3 linked regions of the Homo sapiens genome follow. Each later gene encodes a partner of the first gene's protein in a complex. Each region holds a gene or a part of one and is shown on either strand. Other genes may lie near its edges.

Region 1 (7,024 bases):
AATTTTTAAATATTTTGCTGGGCAAGGTGGCTCACGCCTGTAATCCTAGCACTTAGGGAGGCCGAGCATGATGAATCACTTTAGCTCCAGAGTTCGAGACCAGCCTGGGCAACATGATGAAACCCTGTTTCTACCAAAAATACAAAAAGTAGCCAGGCATGGTGGTGCGCCCTGTAGTTCCAGCTACTTGGGGGGAGCTGAGGCAGAAGAATTGCTTGAACCCAGGAGGTCCAGCTGCAGTAAGCCGAGGTTGCACCACTGCACTCTAGCCTGGAAGACAAAGTGAGATCCTTTCTCAAAAAAAAAAAAAAAAAAAAAAAAACTTTGGGTGGAAGGTGGGGTGGGGCTTGAGAAGAGTGAATCTTTGAAGTTAGTTGGAGTTTTTATCTGCATAGGTATACTCATTTAAAATGGTTTGAATGTGATTTTCTTTGAAGATAACAGTTTGTTTATTTTTCTAGGGTTTTGATGAGTATATGAACCTTGTATTAGATGATGCAGAAGAGATTCATTCTAAAACAAAGTCAAGAAAACAACTGGGTAAGGATAGAAGTGGTCTTACAGAATTCTAGAAATATTTTATTCACTTGCAGAATTCAGTGACCTGCAACTCAGTTCATGTTTGAATTTATTTTGCATTTGAGAAGTTATTATTCAGAGTAGTAGTACACTTTTGAAATCATCCTCTACTACTCACTCCTCACCACACTCCATTTTGGCTTCTCCACCCAGAGAGCTCTCACCAAGGGAACCAAAGACTAGTGGTATTAAATCTAATGATCAGTACTAATCCTCATTTTATTAAACTCTCAACAGCATTTGGCACTGTTGGCTGCTCCCTCCTTAAAGCGCTTTGTTCCCGTGTCTGAGTGGCAGGAAAAACCCAAGTAGATTTTTCTGTTTCCTCAGTTGACAATAATTAACACAGAAGACTTCTGTGACCAGATGTATGGGCATATTTCCCCACACACCAAGCAAGCAATCAGTTCGGCAGTGGACATCAGCTCAGAGTCGTCAAGTTCAGTTCAGTTCTAACACTATCTACCTGAGATAGCGTCAGTTCCCAGAGGTTGAGGGCTCAATCCCCAAGATTGCCTTCCATGCCCCTCAGTCCTCCACCAGATGCTAATTGTCAGCTCCAGATTGTTTTACCTGTGCTTCTTACTGACTGGCTATAAACTGGGTCCCATGACCCCTCCGTTGGTTTGATTAATTTGCTAGAGCAGCTCACAGAACTCGGGGAAACACTTGTATTTACTGGTCTGTTATAAAGGATATTACAAAAAGTACAGATGAAGAGATGCGTAGGGCAAGGCATATAGGAAGGGATGCGAAGCTTTTGTGCCCTCTGCAAGCTCACCACTCTGGGAACCTCCACATGTTGAGCTATCAGAACCCCATTGTTTTCAGTTTTTATGTAAGCTTCATTATGTAGGCATGACTGATTAAATTGGCCGTTGGTGATCAGCTTAACCTTCAGCTCCTTTCCTCCTCCCCGGGTGGGAGGGTGGGGCTGAAAGTCCGACATCACTAATGCCTTGGTCCTTTCAGTGAGCAGCTCCCATGCTGAAACGTTGTAGGGGCTGCTGGCCATCAGTCAATCATTAGCATACAAAAAGGCAACATCTTAGAGATTCTAAGGATTTTAGGAGTTGTATGGGATTGAAGACCAAGTAAATATTTTGCAGTATCACACCTTGGCTCTACGATATTATACTTGGGTTTTTATTTTTCACTTCTGGCTATTTTTCAGACTTATATATTCATTCTTGGGACCCAATCACTAAATGAGTTGCTCCAGGCTTGGTTCTAGGCCCTCCTGTCATTCAGTATTGTCTGCCTAGGCACTGGAGTACAGCTTCAGTTACCATCTATAAATACTGACTCCCAAATTTGTTTGTCTGGGCCTATTCACCATTTCTACTTGAATGTTTCAAAGGCTTCTTAAAGTCAGCATATCAGAAAGCAAACTCAATTCCAACTCACACTGTTTAGAGCTATTGTATTATTATTTCCTGCCTTATTGAATGGCACCAGTTTCCAGTTCAGCTTACTAATTGATTTCTCTGCAGCTACCTCCAGTTTGCTTTCCAGGCCTCACTCATCTTTTAAAAACACCAGTCTGAACATATGTCATCCCTTTGCTTGAAATACTGCAATGACTTCCTGTTGCTGTTAGGATAAAAAAAAATCTAATGATTCTGCAAATCTAATGATCTTCATGATCTAGTCTTATCTCCCTCTGCTCATCTCGTATCACTGCCTCACTTTCTGAGCTTTAGCAACACTTGTCTTATTTCAGTTCTTTGAATCTGCAGATTTGCCCAACCATTAATCTTTGTATATGATATTCCTTGTGTCTGTAGAGCTCAGATCAAATATCACTTCTTTTAAGACAGCGGTCCCCTAGGCCAGGTGCAGTGGCTCACACCTGTAATCCCAGCACTTTGGGAGGCCGAGGCGGGTGGATTACGAGGTCAGGAATTCAAGACCATCCTGGCTAACATGGTGAAACCCTGTCTTTCCTGAAAAAAAAAAAAAAAAAAAAAAATTAGCTGGGCATGGTGGCGGGTGCCTGTAGTTCCAGCTACTCGGGAGGCTGAGGCAGGAGAATGGCGCGAACCTGGGAGGCGGAGCTTGCAGTGAGCTGAGATCACGCCACTGCGCTCCAGCCTGGGCGACACAGCGAGACTCTGTCTCAAAAAAAAAAAAAAAAACAGTGGTCCCCAACCATTTTGGCACCAGGGACCGGTTTTGTGGAAGACAATTTTTCTGTGGACTGGGGTGTGGGGGATGGCTTTCGGATGATTCAGGCACATTACATTTATAGTGCACTTTATTATTATTACATTGTAATATATAATGAAATAATTATACAACTCACCATCATGTAGAATCAGTGGGAGCCCTGAGCCTGTTTTCCCACAACTAGACAGTCCCATCTGGGGGTGATGGGAGACAGTGACAGATCATCAGGCATTAGGTTCTCATAAGGAGTGCGCAACCTAGATCCCTCTTTGCCCGGTTCACAATAGGTTTTGCGCTCCTATGAGAATCTAAGGCTTCCACTGATATGACAGGAGGCAGAGCCCAGGCGGGAATACTAGTGATGGGGAGTGGCTGTAAATACAGATGAAGCTCCGCCACCTCGCCCACTGCTCACCTCTTGCTGTGTGACCCAGTTTCTAACAGGGACCAGGACTGGTACTGGTCTGTGGCCCAGGGGTTAGGAAGCCCTGCTCTAAAAAGTTCAAAGTTTAATTTGGTTTTGCTGGGGATGGGGGAAGGCGGGATTATGTGCTCCCTGAGTTTGTAGTAAAACCTTTATTATTGAAATTATTTTATTAGTGTCTCTCCTGTTATCAGATGCTTCACCGTAAGTGTATGAGTCATGCCTTTTTTGATCCCAGTGTGCTCAGTACCTAACTCAATGCCTGGCACATAATAGAAACTAAAAAATATTTGAACAATGAATGGTATTTCTTTCTTTTGTTTTTGGAGACAGAGTCTCTGTCGCTCAGGCTGGAGTGTAATGACGTGATTTTGGCTCACTGCAACCTCTGCCTCCCAGGTTCAAGCAATTCTCCTGCCTTAGACTCCCAAGTAGCTGGGACTACAGGCGTGTACCACCACGCCTGGCTGATTTTTTGTGTTTTAGTAGAGACGGGGTTTCACTGTGTTGCCCAGGCTGGTCTCTAACTTCTGAGCTCAGGCAATCCACCTGCCTCGGCCTCCCAAATGCTGGGATTACATGTGTGAGCCACTAAGCCTGGCAATGAATGGTATTTCTTAACCCAGTTAATGAATGGTCTTAGGATTCACGGTTTCATCAAGACACACTGAATCATTTCTGTTAACATCCCATTCACTTGAGGTTTATTTAGGCATTTTGTCTTTATTTGTTAAATGCTCACTAATACTTTTATCAGTGGTGGGTTTCAGGTGTCTCTCTTTCAGACCCTCAGGATTCTCTTCAACCTGAACTAGATATATGGAAAGTAGATTCTGAGAAGCAGTATGGTGTTTCGCTGGCTGCTTCCTGCTTAGACTATTTTTATGAAAGCCTGGGTTTTTTAGATTTATTGTTATTTATTTATTTATTTTTTTGGAGACGGAGTCTCACTCTGTCTCCCAGGCTTGAGTGCCATGGCACAATCTCAGCTCACTGCAACCTCCACCTCCTGGGTTCAAGCGATTCTCCTGCCTCAGCCTCCCAAGTAACTGGGATTACAGGGCATGCCACCACACCTGGCTAATTTTTTGTATTTTAGTAGAAGACGGGGTGTCACCGTGTTGTCCAGGCTGGTCTCGAATCCTAAGCTCAGGCATTCCACCCACCTTGGCCTCCCAAAGTGCTGGGATTATAGGTGTGAGCCACCATACCCAGCCGGGTTTTTTAGATTTAAAGATGTCTTGCCAGGACGGGCAAGCTTAGCCTTACTGAGGTCATATTATTCATAAATTATTTACCAACTGTTGAATTCCCATGGTAGTATTTATCCTGTAGAATAGAATGTTATTAATACCTGCAGAAGCCTGGGAAAGTAGAACAGTTTAATTACTGTTGGAGTTGATCAACGTGTCTCAAACCGTTCTACCAGTGAACACCAGTGTTCCTGAAGATGTTTATAAATTTCTCAGAAAAGTATTGTCTTAAATAACCTTAGGAAATTTTGGGTAAAACAGGTTTGTTTATTGTAGGATGGAGTCTTTTTTTTTTTTTTTTTTTTTTTTTTTTTTTTTTGGAGATGAATTTTGCTCTTGTTGCCCAGGCTGGAGTGCAATGGTGCCATCTTGGCTCACTGCAACCTCCGCCTCCCGGATTCAAGCAATTCTCCTGCCTCAGCCTCCCAAGTAGCTGGGATTACAGGCACGCGCCACCAGGCTCTGCTAATTTTGTATTTTTAGTAGAGATAGGGTGGAGTCTTTAATATACTAACAGCTTTAAGAATGGAGTTATAATATGCTGTATTTCCCAAACTTGACATACGACTCATTTCCAAACTTTTATTACAAATTCAGCATTGGGAAATGTTGTATGAGGCCTATTGAGTTGACTTAGTCCATAGAAATGATATTTGTCATGAAATGTCATCTACCTATGTTAGTCTCTTGAAAAGATAAATGTATTCTAATGGAGCCAGAAAGCCTTTCACTATATGGACACTTGAAAATGTTCACATATTTTTATAAGAAAGCATTTTCAAAATATTGTTCAAAAACTGGATACAAAATTCTGAGAGTAAAACATCTGAGTGTGTGGCTATTAATAGCTTTTTGTTGTTTTTGTGTTGCAGGTCGGATCATGCTAAAAGGAGATAATATTACTCTGCTACAAAGTGTCTCCAACTAGAAATGATCAATGAAGTGAGAAATTGTTGAGAAGGATACAGTTTGTTTTTAGATGTCCTTTGTCCAATGTGAACATTTATTCATATTGTTTTGATTACCCTCGTGTTACTACAAGATGGCAATAAATACTATGGGATTGTTTGTATTAAAAAATTTACATTGCTTCTTACTATTCAGCAGTAGAAACTTTTTACACAGTAACACCATTCGTTGCTGGTATTTAGTTTTCTGAAGGGTCGCAGTTGCCTTGAGCACTTGGTATTCGCAGAGCTTGGACCTGTAGATTTTGAGGCAGATTAGGAATTCTGCCTGATGGGTAAGCTTCCAGTATTGGGAGGTGGAGAAGGGGAGGGTTCAGAAAAATAAATAAGAGTTATTGCACTAACAAAAGTCTTCATCACTTGTAGTTCTGGATGCTGGAATACCAGAGTTTCTAACCTAAATATGTTGGGTACATTATTTAATGGGGTCAGTATTGCTCAACACTCTCATTGAGTCACTGTGAGGTCTTTGTGAATTTTATCGCTAAGATCAGAATGTGAGAAGTATTTGGATATAGGGAAAGAATGAAGTGCCTTTCAAGTACATTAAAAATCAGTTAAGAGTTTACAGGAAAGAGACTGAGATTGGTAATCTGAAAAGGACCACAAGCATAGCTGGTAGGCAAATTGTTAGGCAGAATAATGGTATGTTGGAGAAATACACCTGTCTCTTATTCTTATCTCTTAAGAATTTTGGTTCTTCCCCCAGTGATTGCTGGTTGAATTCTTATATGGACAGGTTTCCCTTCCCCCAGTATCGCACATGGTTCTAGTTAGAATCCTGTTAGATAGTGAGCATCTGCTGTTAGCTAGACACTGTTGAATCAATACAGTGAAACAGACAGGTAAGCAGGTGGTTTTAATGCCTCATTCTAAGTGCTATTTAAATTGGATCTTGAAAGATGAATAAGGCCTGCCTTAAGTTCTGCTAAAGGCCATGTTGTTATTAAGGACGGGTGAGGAAGGACCAAGAAGTCTGGCTCCTGCTTTTCTACATGCCTGTGAAGGAGACTTTTCATGAAACTGAATAAAAGAAATCCTTTCCGAGATAGAGGAGATTTGTAGGTGAATGCAGAAGTGTATCCAGCTTTGAACCATGCATTCCATCTATATTCCTCCTGTCTGAACTCATGCTCTTTTGATTATGTTTTGAAATAAAGGGCTGCATTAGTTCTTTTAACATTTGAGTTTGAAATTAATTAAACTGATCACAACATGCAAAGAAAACATTGGGCAGCAGAGGGAGTTACAGCCCTGAGACTGCTTCAGCCCTGCTGGTGAGAAGATTGAATTGAAGCTTTTTCAGAGCAGAGCAAAGACCTCCCTGCAGCTTTCTTGGCACCAGAATAGCTGGGAAGAAGGATAAAAGCCCAGAGGAGTATAATCTCTAAGAAAACCTGCTGGCTGCCTTTTCCATTTCCCTGTGTGGCCTTTCTGACCTGGCTGCCCTGTGGAAGCAGAGCTGTGCCTGCTGTGGCTTATTCTGAATGGATCAAGACATGGAAGGTTCTATTTTTGACAGAGCAAATGATGATAGTGAGAATTAAGGTACAGTGAACTCTTACAATTGAGCTCTGTATTTAGAAATCTCTGCTTGCTTTCCTGCTCTACTGGAGCCTGTGGTGTTTGCT
Region 2 (7,024 bases), on another chromosome or scaffold:
TCTAACCATCAATCAAGTGCCGCTGTGGCGGAGAGGATTCAGGCGACTGCAGATATCCATCCCTGTCCCCCACCCCACACACAAGGAGAACATCCCAGGCGAGGACATTGTAAATGCAAAATCTATACGATGGCAAGTAACTCTGAAGACTCAAGAAAAAGAGTTCCTCACGGACGGGACCTTTTATTCCAATCACCTCTCAAAATAGGTCTCCGAACGAGGACCCTGAAGAGAAGGCTATGCAGGGGGACGGGCCGCTGCCTGGCTCAGGGCTTCCCTCTGGTTTCTTCACGGTCCACAGATGCTACCCGGAGCCTTTCTCGAAAGCGCTGACTCAGTGTCTCAGGTGCGCGCCCGAGGAGTGGCAAACCCGGCCTGGCTCAGAAAGGGGGCAGGAGCCTCGTGAGAATCTTCCATGAGCATCTTCCGAGGGGATTCCTGTCCTGTCTTCTCTGTGTGAACGCCAGTGTGGACAGATGAGGATAGATGATGGAGTCCAGGCCACCCAGGAGGGGGTGATGGGGACCATGCGTGGCCCCTGCCTGGGACTTCCCTCCCCACACACCCCTTGGCATTAACGTCTCCACAGAGGGGAGAGGGTTATAGGACAACCTGGTGTGGGGGGCGCCGGGGACTCTCAAGAGCCCCCACTGTCCAGATGCTGGTCTTGCCTTTTGTAAAAGGACATCAGTGCCTCACTGTGCCGCTGACACCTGGTGAGAACTCTCAAAAGGAAGCTTCCCTTACGGGAACGGGGATTTCCTGAGAGTCCAGCGATGGACAGAGGGCAGGAGACCCGCTAGGTGCACCCAGAAGCTCAAAAGGAACAGTGGATGTGCAGTGTGTAGTTTTATTTGTTTTTATTTCCATAACACAAGAGAGGAAGCGAAGGGCCAGGGCCCGAGGCATCCCCTGCACGGTTCGAAGGCTTTCAACCGTCCCGGGTTTGTTTTGAAGGCAATTTTGGGGCCGCGCCCAAGGAAACCCTGCAGGCTGTCAGTCCCAGCATGAACAGCTTAAAATAAAAATCTCCCGTCTGGTTGCTGCTCGGAGAGGCTCCAAGAAATGCAAAACAAACCCGCCTGGAAAATGCTGCCCTGAGAACCAGAGCGAGGGCTTGAAAGATGCCTTCAACACAGACTCTTCTAGGAATCCAGCCAGTTTTGGGACGGCCGTTTCACAAAACCAAAAAACACCAAGTAACATTTCTAACCGGAGAATTGCCGGTTTTAGCAAGAAAAAGGGGCTTCACCTAAAAGGGAGGGTCACAAAACACGAAGGGGGTTCCCCCTGGCGCCTGCCTCTTCCTTTCTGAGCAGATCCGTCCGAGACTGTGGAGCGGAATCGCCACCCTGGCAGGAGGGGGCGCAGCAGCCGGTCTGGGTGGGCGCTCACTGTTTGCCCGCCTGTCTGCCAGGCTTCTTCTCTGGCTGGCCTCTGCCTGTGCCCGGGATCCCACCTCGGCCCCGGCCACCAAACACACCTAGAGGACAGAGAGAGGGCGCTGCAGCAGAGCCAGGTGGGTGGGACCTTCGACAGGATCCCGGCGCCCTGAAACTCTAGGCCAGGTCACCTAAGTCTCCAGCCTCAGCTTCCTCATGTGTGAGGTGGTGACTGAGGGTGCTTGGATCTCCTCCGTGGGGCAGAGCATCTGAGGAAGGCAGGAACTCCAGGGCATCCTCATTATGGGACTAGACCCAGCCCCCAGGGATGCGGGGGGGGGGGACTAGGCGACAGAGGACACTAAGTCACATTGGGGGTTGGGGCAGGCTTCCTAAAGGACAAAGCCAGAAGGGTTTCCTGGAGGAGGAGGAGGAGGTAGGAGAGGCGTGGAGCAGAGACCAGGGCAGTAGGCCAGGCTGGGGGCTCCCTGGCGGGGGGGGGGCCTCCTATGCGCCACAACCACCCACAGCCCCTCATCTACCTGCCAGGAGGAAAACAGAAAGAGGGATTTCTGTGTATCCAGCCCCAGGGATGGGGAAGGGGAGGGGACTCCCCAGCAGGCCTGAGGCCAGAGATAGACCATGAGGACAAATGACATTTTCCATGAAGCCCCTGAGGTGGGAGCATGTGGCCACTGGGGAGGTGACAGGGGGTTCCCGGGAGATGAGGGCCCCAGGGACTGAGTGGACGCTACAGCGGCACCTCCAGTAATCCTGAGCAGGCTGCACGCAGGGCACGCCTGTCCCCACACCCTCTGTGTGCCTGGCGCCCCTTCACGCCACCCTCACCACAGGCCAGGCCTGGACGCAGCAGGTTGGTCAGGCCGGGACCCAACATTGATCCCTCCCTCTCTGTCTCCCTTGGGGACCCCAGCTCTGTAAGCCCCGTTTAGGGAGCCGTTTCAGAGAACTTTCTAGCTGGACGAACGCTTGAGGAAATCAAAGCTGGAGCTTCAAACAGCAGGAGAGCCAAGGCCAGCAAGAGGAGCTGGCCCTGTGGCCCATGTGCTGGGTGCCAGGGGCCAGAGGCCAGCGCTGCAGGCAGCATAGCTCAGGCCCTCCACAGAGCCCGCTGGGAGGCTCAGTCGTGGGCCAGGGAGGTCTGGGGACAGGAGGACTGACCCCAACAGGAACTGGAATCACGGTCTACTCTGCAGACCTCAACCCCGTGAAGGTGGGGTCAGGGGTCCAGATTCAGAGGATCTAAGAGGTCAGGGCTCTCACCAGCCAGGGGCCACCAGGCCCTGTGGGGACAGAGGCCAGAGGCCAACGCTGGCCTGGGCCACCAACCTCCCCTCTCACCAGGCAGGACCAGCTGTGCTAGGGTGCACAGCCTGGTGGGGGTTACTGCGAGGCTGCTATCTGCACTCCATGGCCCAGTGGCTTCCTGCAGAGCAGCCAGAGAAAACCCCCCACTTCCCTAGGTAGGACCCGACCCACTCTCTCAACAACCTTGACCCCAACTACTGGGAAGGAGCCAGGCCGGGGACCCCAGAGGCCCCACCCACCCTGAGATCCCCAAAGCTCCCTGCCTGGAGTACTATCCCTGCCCCTCCCTCGGGCTCACTCCTGACCACCTCGTGAGCCTGCACAGAATTGGCGCCTGGGGCCTTCCGGGGGCAGCCATGCCGTGCTGCAAGCCCCCAGGCTGGCACCTGAGCCCAGCACACAGGCAGTGCCCATGGATGGCAGAAGCAAAGCCCAGGTCCCCCCGAGAACACAGAGCTGGGGACAGAGAGGTGAGGAAGGGCAGGGGCTACAGATGGCCCCTGGGCCTAACAAATGGAATTTTATGCCAATTCATCATCTCCGGTGGGGGCGGGCGACCTTGGCTCTGGATAGAGCCACGCCAGGTTCCAAGTGGAGTTGCCAGCGGCCTGGACAGATGGGCACCACCATACCCTCTCAGAGGGGAAACTGAGGCTTGGGGAGGTGACTTGATGTGCCCTGAGGACCGCCAGGAGGCGCAGTGAGAGGAGGGCTGAGTCCCAGGTCTCGGGGCTCCTCTGCCTGGGCCTCGGCTCATGGCCAAGGACCAGGAGGGGGGCCCGGGAGGGTTGGGAGGCTCCGAGGCAGCGCTGCAAGGGCAACCCCAAGAAGGAGGGATGCCACGTGTGGCTGTCTTCCCGCCCCAGGTACGTCCACTGGAGAGGGGAGACCCACCTCGGCCAGCGCCGCCCATGCCGCGGCCTTTCTGCTGCTTCTGCTGCTGCAGGCCTCCGCGGCCGCGGCCCTTGGCCACCACCTCCTCCTTGACCATGTCGATGATCTCGTCGGGGATGCGCAGGTACTTGATGGTGCTGCCGCGGATGTAGCACTCGGGCATCCGCCAGAACTTGTCCCCGTCCTGCGGAGAAGGGGAGCAGGTTATTAACTTACCACCGGGCCGTCTGGCCCAGCCCTGGGAGCGCGGGAGGCCCTGCAGATCCTGCCCAGCCTGCACCCCGTACCACCCCTGCAAGCTGCACAGTATCAGTCCCGGGACATACGTGGCAAAGGGTCCACCCTGCAGGCAGGATCTGTCCTGACCCCAGGCAATCCTTCACCCAGGAGCAAGGGTGGGTGTGGTAGGCGCAGCCCCCATTGTGCACTCACAAGGAAGACTGGCTCCTATCCTCTGCCCGTGGGCCTGGCTCAGGAGTGGCTGACTGGGGCTCCCTCCAGCCTGGGATGGGGCTCTCTCTGGTTGGGGTTCTTCACCTGCAGCCCAAAGCCCAGAGCGGGTGGGGGCCTCCCTGTGCACCAGACACAGCCGAAGCCCAGCTACTCCTCCTCCTGCCCCAGCCCCACCTCACTTCTGGAAGCCTCTCTACATGCCCTGACTCATTCATTCATCTAAGTATCTCCTGACAGGGCCTGCGCTGGGTGCAGGGACATGCGAGCAAGCTACAGGCCTAGTGTGGTGGGTGAAGAGGGGCGGGAAATGGGGGGACTTGGGTCCTGCCAGGGTGGCTCAAGGGCGGCTCCCAGCGATGCCAGTTTTAGGAGAGCTAACCAAGACTGGAGAAATGGGGGCCTTGCAAAGACACAGACTCATGCTGCAATGCCTCCGAGGCCCCCACTGGGACAGATCGAGGGATTAGCAGGGGCCAGGGCCATTCCTACCATATCAGTTTCCCAGCCCCGCCCCACCGCCCAGGTTCCTGGACAGACCCACGCACGACGCCTGGATGGCCTTTGCCCCCGATGCCCTTTAAAGTCAGATCACAGTATGTTCCAGCTTGGAACCCACCCAGGGCCCCCTCCAGCCTGGGGGCAAGGTCTAAGAACCTCAGCAGGGCTCTCTAGGGCCCGAGATCCTGCCCCGCCCTGGCGGTCCTCTCCCAGCCCGACGACACTCCCTCCAGATGGAACTTTCTGTTTCCGGAACACACGCCATGGGCTTGCCCCCAGAACTTTGCACGTGGTTTTCCCACTTCTCATCTGGCTAACTTTGACCCCAAAAGGCCTTACCTGCCCGAATCCCCAAGTCCTCCTGTCAGACACTCTCCTCCACACCTGGGTAGGTGTGGCCTGGCCTAGCGCTGGGCGGGGAGGAACAGCCCCTTTGGGTGCTCACTCTCCCAGGAACCCCTCGAGGGCTCGTGGGGCGGACACACCATGGTTCTGTGGGGACTCAGGGCCTGGGCAGGTGACTTGGCGCCCAGCTCTCCCAGGCAGGGCCCAGAGGCTTCCTCGTGCAGGAACCTGGGCAGGGCCTGAGCTCACTGCAGGGAGGCCCCTGCCTCCTGCCCACAGCGCTCCAGAGGTCTCTCAGCCCGGGGTCTCTGCATCCTGCGGCCTGCCTCTGAGGGAGGGAGGGCCCCACTTAGATGGGGACGATGTGAGTTCCCATCGCCTCTCCTCCCAGCCACATGTGACGGCAGCATCACCGCCTGGCCACAGAGGCAGGCTGCTCAGGGAAAGCCATCCGTCCACTCGAAGCTGGAGGCAGAGGCCAAACCAACCCCTGGAGACCACGCAGCCTCTGAATCAACAGGCTTCTCATGTCTAGGACCTGGAGGTGTCCACAAGACCGCACATGCTCACGCACGCAACACGCCTGGTGATTCCAATACCGGAAGTGGACAGAGCCCCGCTGGCCGCAGATGGGAGGCACGCGGTTCTGCACCAAGGCACCATCCGACACAGCCAGACTGGACCCACCCAGACGCCCTCCGACAGGCTATGGCACGAAACCCAGCAAGCAGTTTCTAGAGCTTCTAGCGCTGCTGCACAGCAGCCTCACCACCTGTCCCCACCCCGCCCAGCCCTGTGCTGATGAGAGGCCCAGTCCCGGGTGGGGGTGGCGGTCAGGGCAAGATACGGCCACTTCAGGAAGAAGCGCCTCCCCCCTCGAGCCCTGTTGTCCTGTCAAGGTGACCCCAGGCAGGCACTCCAAGCTCCCCAGCAGTTTCCTCCCTATACCATGGGGGGCTGTCACCCACAGGGAGACAAGACAGATGGGGTCAGGGAAGGTTGGTGGGAGGAGTCCAAGGGAGCCGCTGCCTTCAGCACCATCCCTGGCCTCCTCCTCAGTGCTCTGTGGGTCATCCCAGGGGCAGGGAAGGCCCGTGACACCAGGGGAACCATCTTCCAGCCCCGGCCGACCCAGCAGCACTCCTAGCCAGGCACTTCCGGTCTTGGGCTCTGGCTGGTGGCTCCTGACCCACCGGGCCCTGGCGCTGCTCCTGCCCACCGTGACCTGGGCATCCCGGACATCCCAGGGCCACACTACCATGGCCCGCAGAGTGCAGGCAACATCCAGGCTGGACTAAAGGCAGCAGAGTCCGGGAGTCTTGGGCCTCCCCTGGAGGGGGCTGCCCCAGCCTGAGCCACAGGGAGTCCCCAGTCCTAGGTCCTTCCAGGTCAGGGGTGGCACCAACAGACACACAGCAGGAAAGTCTCCCACAGGGTCAAAGTCCAGGGCACACTGGGAGACTTGGTGGCCTAGCTCACCCTGCCCTGTCCCTCCTGACTGACCCCTGGAAGGACGAGCAGTCCTAGGCGGCCTCCCCCACTGACTCCTCCCATGAGGCCCAGGGAGGGAGGGAGGAGGCTGAGTGTGCACCCCCTGCATCCCACCCCCGTTGGTGGGTGCAGCACCCACCCTGGACGTGCAGATGACTTCTCGCAGGTTAATGTTCATCCAGTTGTCGCAGCTCACCAGGTGTCCATTGTACGTCTCCCCATTTTTCAGCTCCACCAACTAGAAGAGAGACAGGCTAGAGGTTGGCTGTAGCCCTGGAGCCCTGCGCCATGGGCCCCTCAGGAGGTGTAGCTCTGCCCTGAGATGGACCACCACCTCCGGGCCTCAGCCCACAGTTCCCAGACCCCTAAATGGCCTTCCTTACAGGCGACAGGCTCTGCCTCCGCTAGACACTTCGCTGGCAGTTAGACAGTCTATCATGACGCCAACCTTTGTGCAATTAAAAAATGATACTGGGCCGGGCGCGGTGGCTCACGCCTGTAATCCCAGCACTTTGGGAGGCCGAGGCAGGCAGATCACGAGGTCAAAAGATTGAGACCATCCTGACCAACATGGTGAAACCCCATCTCTACTAAAATCATAAAAATTAGCTGGGCATGGTGGTGCATGCCTG
Region 3 (7,275 bases), on another chromosome or scaffold:
GAAGTGAGGAGCCCCTCTGCCCGGCCACCACCCCGTCTGGGAGGTGTGCCCAACAGCTCATTGAGAACGGGCCAGGATGACAATGGCGGCTTTGTGGAATAGAAAGGCAGGAAAGGTGGGGAAAAGATTGAGAAATCGGATGGTTGCCCTGTCTGTGTAGAAGGAGGTAGACATGGGAGACTTTTCATTTTGTTCTGTACTAAGAAAAATTCTTCTGCCTTGGGATCCTGTTGATCTGTGACCTTACCTCCAACCCTGTGCTCTCTGAAACGTGTGCTGTGTCCACTCAGGGTTGAATGGATTAAGGGCGGTGCAAGATGTGCTTTGTTAAACAGATGCTTGAAGGCAGCATGCTCGTTAAGAGTCATCACCACTCCCTAATCTCAGGTACCCAGGGACACAGACGCTGCGGAAGGCCGCAGGGTCCTCTGCCTAGGAAAACCAGAGACCTTTGTTCACTTGTTTATCTGCTGACCTTCCCTCCACTGTTGTCCTATGACCCTGCCAAGTCCCCCTCTGTGAGAAACACCCAAGAATTATCAATAAAAAATAAATAAATAAATAAATAAATAAATAAAAAAGATTTCTTTGGGGGGTGCTGGGAATGTTCTGGAACTCAATAGTGGTAACTGCACAAGTCTGTAAATATACTAATTTTGAATCATTAAAACTAAAATTCATTAACAATCATTGAATTATACACATGAAAACAAGCGAACTTTATGGATTGCGATTTTTTTTTTTTTTTTTTTGAGGCAGAGTTTCGCTCTTGTTGCCCAGGCTGGAGTGCAATGGCGCGATCTCAGCTCACTGCAACCTCTGCCTCCAGATGCAAGCGATTCTTACATCTCAGCCTCCCAAGTAGCTGGGATTACAGGCATGCACCACCATGCCCCGCCAATTTTTGTATTTTTAGTAGAGACAGAGTTTCACCATGTTGCTTCGTCTGGTCTCGAACTCCTGACCTCAGGTGATCCGCCCGCCTCGACTTCCCAATGTGCTGGGATTACAGGCATGAGCCAGCATGGTGGCCATGGAGTGCAACTTTTATCTCAATAATGCTGTTTTGAAAATAGTACAGAGAGTTCTTGTGTACCCTTCACGTAGCTTGAGAACTTTTTATTTTATTTTATTTTTGAGCGAGAGTCTCACTCGGTCACCCAAGCTGGAGTGCAATAGCATGATCTCAGCTCACTACAACCTCCACCTCCGGGTGCAAGCGATTCTTATGCCTCAGCCTCCCAAGTAACTAGGATTACAGGCATGTGCCACCATGCCCCACTAATTTTTGTATTTTAGTAGAGACAGGTTTTCACCATGTTGGCTAGGCTGGTCTCGAATTCCTGACCTCAAATGATCCACCTGCCTCAGCCTCCCAAAGTGCTGGGATTACAGGCGTGAGCCACCACACCTGCCCCCTGCCCACCCCCCAGAACTTGTTTTTTTTTTTTTTTTTGGAGACGGAGTCTTGCTCTGTCACCCAGGCTGGAGTGCAGTGGCCCGATCTTGGCTTACTGCAACCTCTGCCTACCGGGTTCACACCATTCTCCTGCCTCAGCCTCCCGAGTAGCTGGGACTACAGGCGCCTGCCACCATGCCCGGCTAATTTTTTTGTATTTTTAGTAGAGATGGGGTTTCACCGTGTTAGCCAGGATGGTCTCGATCTCCTGACCTCGTGATCCACCCTCCTCAGCCTCCCAAAGTGCTGGGATTACAGGCGTGAACCACCGCGCCCGGCCACCCCCCAGAACTTCTTATACAACCATAGAGCGACAATCAAACCAGGAAATTGACATTGGTACAATACTCTTTTTTTCTTTTTTGAGACGGAGTCTTGCTCTTTTGCCCAGGCTGGAGTGCAGTGACTATCTCAGCTCACTACAACCTCTACCTCCTGGGTTCAAGCGATTCTCCTTCCTTAGCCTCTCAAGTAGCTCGAAGCACAGGTGCGTGCCACCATGCCCGGCTAATTTTTTTGTATTTTTAGTAGAGACAGGGTTTCACCGTGTTAGCCAGGATGGTCTCGATCTCCTGACCTTGTGATCCGCCAGCCTCGGCCTCCCAAAGTGCTGGGATTACAGGCGTGAACCACCGCGCCCGGCCACAATACTCTTAATGAAACTACAGACCATAGTAGGATTTCACCAGGGCTTAGAGCAATGTCTGGCACGTAGTGAACCTTACACAGGTGAAAGGACTTCACTACCATGACGATGATGATGATGAAGATGATAATGATGATGTTGGACTTTCTAGCACAGCCAGATTGATATGGTGCCTATTTTCAGAGCATGCCATGTTAGTTTCTATATCTAAACCTTTTTTGGCCTGGCACGGTGGCTCACGCCTGAAATCCCAGCAATTTGCGAGGCTGAGGTAGGCAGATTACTTGAGCTCAGTAGTTCGAGACCAGCCTGACAAACATGGAGAAACGCCATCTCTACGAAAAATACAAAATTAGCCGGGTGTGGTGGCACATGCCTGTAACCCCAGCTACTCAGGAGGCTGAGGCAGGAGAATCGCTTGAATCCTGGAGGCAGAGGTTGCAGTGAGCCGAGATTGTGACACTGCACTCCAGCCTGGCAACAGAGTGAGACTCTGCCTCAAAAAACAAAAAACAAACCAAAACCCCCACTTTTTTTCTATGAAACCAGCCTCGCTCTGTCACCCAGGCTGGAGTGCAGTGGTGCCATCATGATCCTCCCACCTCAGCCTCCCGAGTAGCTGGGACTACAGGCATGTACCACTATGCCTGGTTAATATTTTTATTATTTGTAGAGATGAGGGTCTCAGTATGTTGCCCAGGCTAGTCTTAAACTCATGAGTTTAACCAATCCTCTCGCCGCTGCCTCCCAACGTGCTAGGATTACAGGTATGAGTCACGGTGCCCGGCTTCTTTCTTAACTCTTTCTAGTAGTTCTACCACTTGGGATTACCTTTTTCCTTCCTCTCCATTTACCTTTATGAAATCCTCACATCCATCCATCTCCATCAAATCTTTAACAATTCTCCTCTGTCTTTTTTGACTGTAGGGACCTTTAGAACACCCAGCATTAAAAAATAGATTTCAGGCCGGGCATGGGGGCTCACGCCTGTAATCCCAGCACTTTGGGAGGGCCGAGGCAGGAGGATTTCGTAAGGTCAGGAGTTTGAGACCAGCCTGGCCAACATAGTGAAACCCTGTCTCTACTAAAAATCCAAAACTTAGCCGGCAGTAGTGGCGCGTGCCTGTAATCCAGCTACTCTGGAGACTGAGGCAGGAGAATTGCTTGATCCTGGGAGGTGGAGGTTGTGATGAATTGAGATCGCGCCATTGCACTCCAGTCTGGGCAACAGAGTGAGACCCTGTCTCAAAAAAACAAAAGGAATATTTTTTAAATTTTTACCGTTCTGAAAGCACATTGACATCCTTTGAATTTTTTTCTAATTATTTCACTTTGATTTGTAAATTCTCAACTAGATTCAGGGGCTGTATGGGTTACAATTCCTCTGCACCCTCCACAGAATTTCAGACTTTTTTTTTTCCCCCGAGACAGAGTCTCGCTCTGTCACCCAGGCTGGAGTGCAGTGGCGCGATCTTGGCTCACTGCAACCTCCCCCTCCCGGGTCAAGCGATTCTCCTGCCTCAGCCTCCCGAGTAGCTGGGACTACAGGCGCCCGCCACCACGCCCGGCTAATGTTTGTATTTTTAGTAGAGACGGGGTTTCACCATGTTGGCCAGGCTGGCCTCGAACTTCTGGCTTTAAGTGATCCGCCTGCCTCGGCCTCCCAAAGTGCTGCGATTCCAGGCGTGAGCCACCGCGCCCGGCCAAGGTCTTAATTCTTGCCTGCCTTTCTGCTCCCCTGTGAACTCTACTGGTTGTCTTTTTTCCTGCTTTATCCCTCGTCCTCGGTAGACAGTGATGGTTAAATGAATGAATGCATGAACAAATGACTGTCCAGGAGCTAGTACTGCATTGCATGTACACATTGATGACAACAGACATCGTACAATGCGCAATCTTGGCAAATTTATTCAAACCCTTTAGACTTCGCTCTCTCACAGTGCGACGCCGGGAGCCCATCACACGCTGAGGTCTGTCAGAGGCCCCAGAAACAGCCTCGGAAATGGAGGAGGCGGGGCTTCACCCCGACCACACCCCCTTGCGTTCAAAGCCTTTCCGCCTATGGGCCCGCCTCCTCGGCGCAGTGTGCAACTCTAATTGGTCGTCTCACTAATCCATCTGAGCACCTCGGCGCCGACTGGATCAACTGCTGAACTCGGGTTGCGCACTTCCCGGCGCTGGGAACGCGGAGCGGACGCAGTCTGGCCGCCATTGCGCTGCGGGGAAAGCGGCCTCTTGTGTGAGGGCCTGTGGGGTGCGTGGCAGGCGTTTAAGGCCGGGCTGCGGGAGGCGTGGTCGGGTCGGGCCGAGTGACCGAAGGGGTTAGGCCGGGCGGGGCTGGATGCACTGTGTGGCGGGACTGCAGGCCGGGGTCCCCGGACGCCTTTCTGCTGCGCTTCTTGTGGGCCCGGGCCTGTGGTTAGTGAATTTTTCTATCCCGCCGCTCCCCAGATTCTCCGGATATGGCCGGAGTGTTTCCTTATCGAGGGCCGGGTAACCCGGTGCCTGGCCCTCTAGCCCCGCTACCGGACTACATGTCGGAGGAGAAGCTGCAGGAGAAAGGTGAGGCGAGAGTGTGGAGCGGCGCGCGGGCCGGAGGCGGGGCGGGTGTGCGCGCGCGCAGGCGGGTGGGGACCCTCCCCGTTTGGGCAGCTCCTGAGGTGTCAGCTCCCTTGTTATTTCCAGTTAATTTTTCATCAAGTCATTTTAAGCGCGTATTATTTGCAAGCGCTGATCCAGCGGGGGTACAGTAGTGACGGAGACAAAATTCCTGTCCTTACGGGGTTTAAATTACAGCGGGAGAGACAGAGAATAACAAAACCTTGAAGCTCTGTAATAAAAATGTCAGGCCGGGCGCGGTGGCTCACGGTTGTAATCCCAGCACTTTGGGAGGCCCAGGCGGGCGGATCACCTGAGGTCAGGAGTTCGAGACCAGCCTGGCCAACACAGTGAAACCTCGTCTCTACGAAAAATACAAAAATGAGTCGTGTGTGGTGGCGCGTGTCTATAATCCCAGCTACTGGGGAGGCTGAGGCAGGAGAATGGCTTGAACCCAGGAGGCGGAGGTTGCAGTGAGCCGACATCGCACCATTGCACTCCAGCCTGGGAGACAGAGTGAAACAACCTCTCAAAAAAAAAAAAAAAAGTCAGATAGTGATCAATGTGATGAAAGGAAAAACAGAGTAAAATGGTAAGGGAATTGGCAAGGGGTGCTTCTTCCTGCTGGTGCCTGCTTCTCCCTCACACTCACTGACAGGAGCTTACCCTAGGGCAAGAGGTGAAGAGGATTAGGGGGAGGGTGTGCAGGCCTTTAAACTGAGGTGCCTTTCCAGCTCGAAAATGGCAGCAATTGCAGGCCAAGCGCTATGCAGAAAAGCGGAAGTTTGGGTTTGTGGATGCCCAGAAGGAAGACATGCCCCCAGAACATGTCAGGAAGATCATTCGAGACCATGGAGACATGACCAACAGGAAGTTCCGCCATGACAAAAGGGTTTACTTGGGGTAAGGAACATCCTGAAATAATTTCATTTGGAATTTGGCCCTTTTCCCTTCTCCCTGTCCCACAGTCTTGGATTGATGCTTTGACAGCTCATCTTGGTGGATATAAGAGAAAGGAGAAAACCAGTAGGAGTCTCTGATAATTTCTACATCTTCCACTTTTGCAGTCTGTTTCCCCTCTCTTCCCGATCTGGGACTGGTGCTTTAATTTGTCCTGTTGATGATATTATAAGATGTCCCTGGCCAGGCGCGGTGGCTCATGCCTGTAATCCCAGCACTTTGGGAGGCCGAGGCGGGTGGATCATGAGGTCAGGAGATCGAGACCATCCTGGCTAACACGGTGAAACCCCGTCTCTACTAAAAATACACAAAATTAGCTGGGCGTGGTGGCAGGTGTCTGTAGTCCCAGCTACTTGGGAGGCTGAGGCAGGAGAATGGCGTGAACCTGGGAGGCGGAACTTGTAGTGAGCCGAGATCACACCACTGCACTCTGGCCTGGGCGAAAGTACGAGACTCCGTCTCAAAAAAAAAAAAAAAATGAAAAATAAGATGTCCCTATGGTTGAGCTGGTTGAAGTCCAGAGTGGGATACTGTGCATAGTGGCAGCCTGTCGCTCCTCAGGGACCTGAATTCTGTGTTTGGGGTATTTAATTTCAGAGGTTTCCCTACTCCTGTTTTTTCTGTGGCTCTAAACTGGGCTAGTACAGGTACAGATGTCTTAGCAGATTCCTGTTCTATTTGGACACAAAAATGTTTGCCATGTAATGAACTGGAAGTTTTGTTTATTTCAAAAAATACTTAGAGAACTGTGCTGGCTGCTGGGGATATAGTAGCGAGCAGAGGGTAACAATCTCCGCCTTTCTGCAGTGTGCGGTCTAGTGGCCTGACAGACATGAGACAACTGGTGATAGTGAAGTATGGTGAATACTTTATTATGATTTATGGGAAGATGCGGAGGGAATAGGATGTGAGAGAGCCGCAAAGCTGTCTCCAGAGGGATAGCCGTTGATTTAGAGGAGCTGATACCAGCATTGTGGGATTATGACGTTTAAGAAGAGTGGTGCAAGGTGAAGTTGGAGAGGGAGAGGCAGGGTTTCTGGTTAGGAAGGGCCTGTGGGCTAAGTTTGGGAGTTTGGATTGTAAGGTAGGACTGTGGAACATGAACATGTGGCTTCTCTGCATGGGACAGGTAGCAGAACACCTCGTCATTTCTGATAGCCTTCTCTTTTTCTAATGTGCCAGTGCCCTAAAGTACATGCCCCACGCAGTCCTCAAACTCCTGGAGAACATGCCTATGCCTTGGGAGCAGATTCGGGATGTGCCTGTGCTGTACCACATCACTGGAGCCATTTCCTTCGTCAATGAGATTCCCTGGGTCATTGAACCTGTCTACATCTCCCAGTGGGGGTGAGAAAGGCTGAAATATGGTGGGTGGTGGTGGTGGTGGTGGTTGGGAGGCAGTGGGTAGAAATGGTTGTGTGATGTCTTGCCTTCCAGGTCAATGTGGATTATGATGCGCCGAGAAAAAAGAGATAGGAGGCATTTCAAGAGGATGCGTTTTCCCCCTTTTGATGATGAGGAGCCGCCCTTGGACTATGCTGACAACATCCTAGATGTTGAGCCACTGGAGGCCATTCAGCTAGAGCTGGACCCTGAGGAGGACGCCCCTGTG

Evidence for each region. The genes of interacting proteins can lie anywhere in the genome.
Region 2: SNRPE (region 1) and LSM4 share a complex: the UniProt entries of both Homo sapiens proteins name them as parts of the U4/U6-U5 tri-snRNP complex.
Region 3: SNRPE (region 1) and PRPF8 share a complex: the UniProt entries of both Homo sapiens proteins name them as parts of the U4/U6-U5 tri-snRNP complex.

The regions. Positions count from the first base shown.
Region 1 is NC_000001.11:203,864,580-203,871,603, forward strand, and holds the end of SNRPE (small nuclear ribonucleoprotein E), read left to right. Parts: intron 1-461; coding exon 462-540; intron 541-5,297; coding exon 5,298-5,353; 3' UTR 5,354-6,573; downstream 6,574-7,024. UniProt on the Homo sapiens protein: Plays a role in pre-mRNA splicing as a core component of the spliceosomal U1, U2, U4 and U5 small nuclear ribonucleoproteins (snRNPs), the building blocks of the spliceosome.
Region 2 is NC_000019.10:18,306,073-18,313,096, forward strand, and holds the end of LSM4 (U6 snRNA-associated Sm-like protein LSm4), read right to left. Parts: intron 6,631-7,024; coding exon 6,532-6,630; intron 3,790-6,531; coding exon 3,606-3,789; intron 1,484-3,605; coding exon 1,392-1,483; 3' UTR 164-1,391; downstream 1-163. UniProt on the Homo sapiens protein: Plays a role in pre-mRNA splicing as component of the U4/U6-U5 tri-snRNP complex that is involved in spliceosome assembly, and as component of the precatalytic spliceosome (spliceosome B complex).
Region 3 is NC_000017.11:1,681,864-1,689,138, reverse strand, and holds the start of PRPF8 (pre-mRNA-processing-splicing factor 8), read left to right. Parts: upstream 1-4,271; 5' UTR 4,272-4,359; intron 4,360-4,556; 5' UTR 4,557-4,567; coding exon 4,568-4,667; intron 4,668-5,437; coding exon 5,438-5,606; intron 5,607-6,845; coding exon 6,846-7,010; intron 7,011-7,100; coding exon 7,101-7,275. UniProt on the Homo sapiens protein: Plays a role in pre-mRNA splicing as core component of precatalytic, catalytic and postcatalytic spliceosomal complexes, both of the predominant U2-type spliceosome and the minor U12-type spliceosome.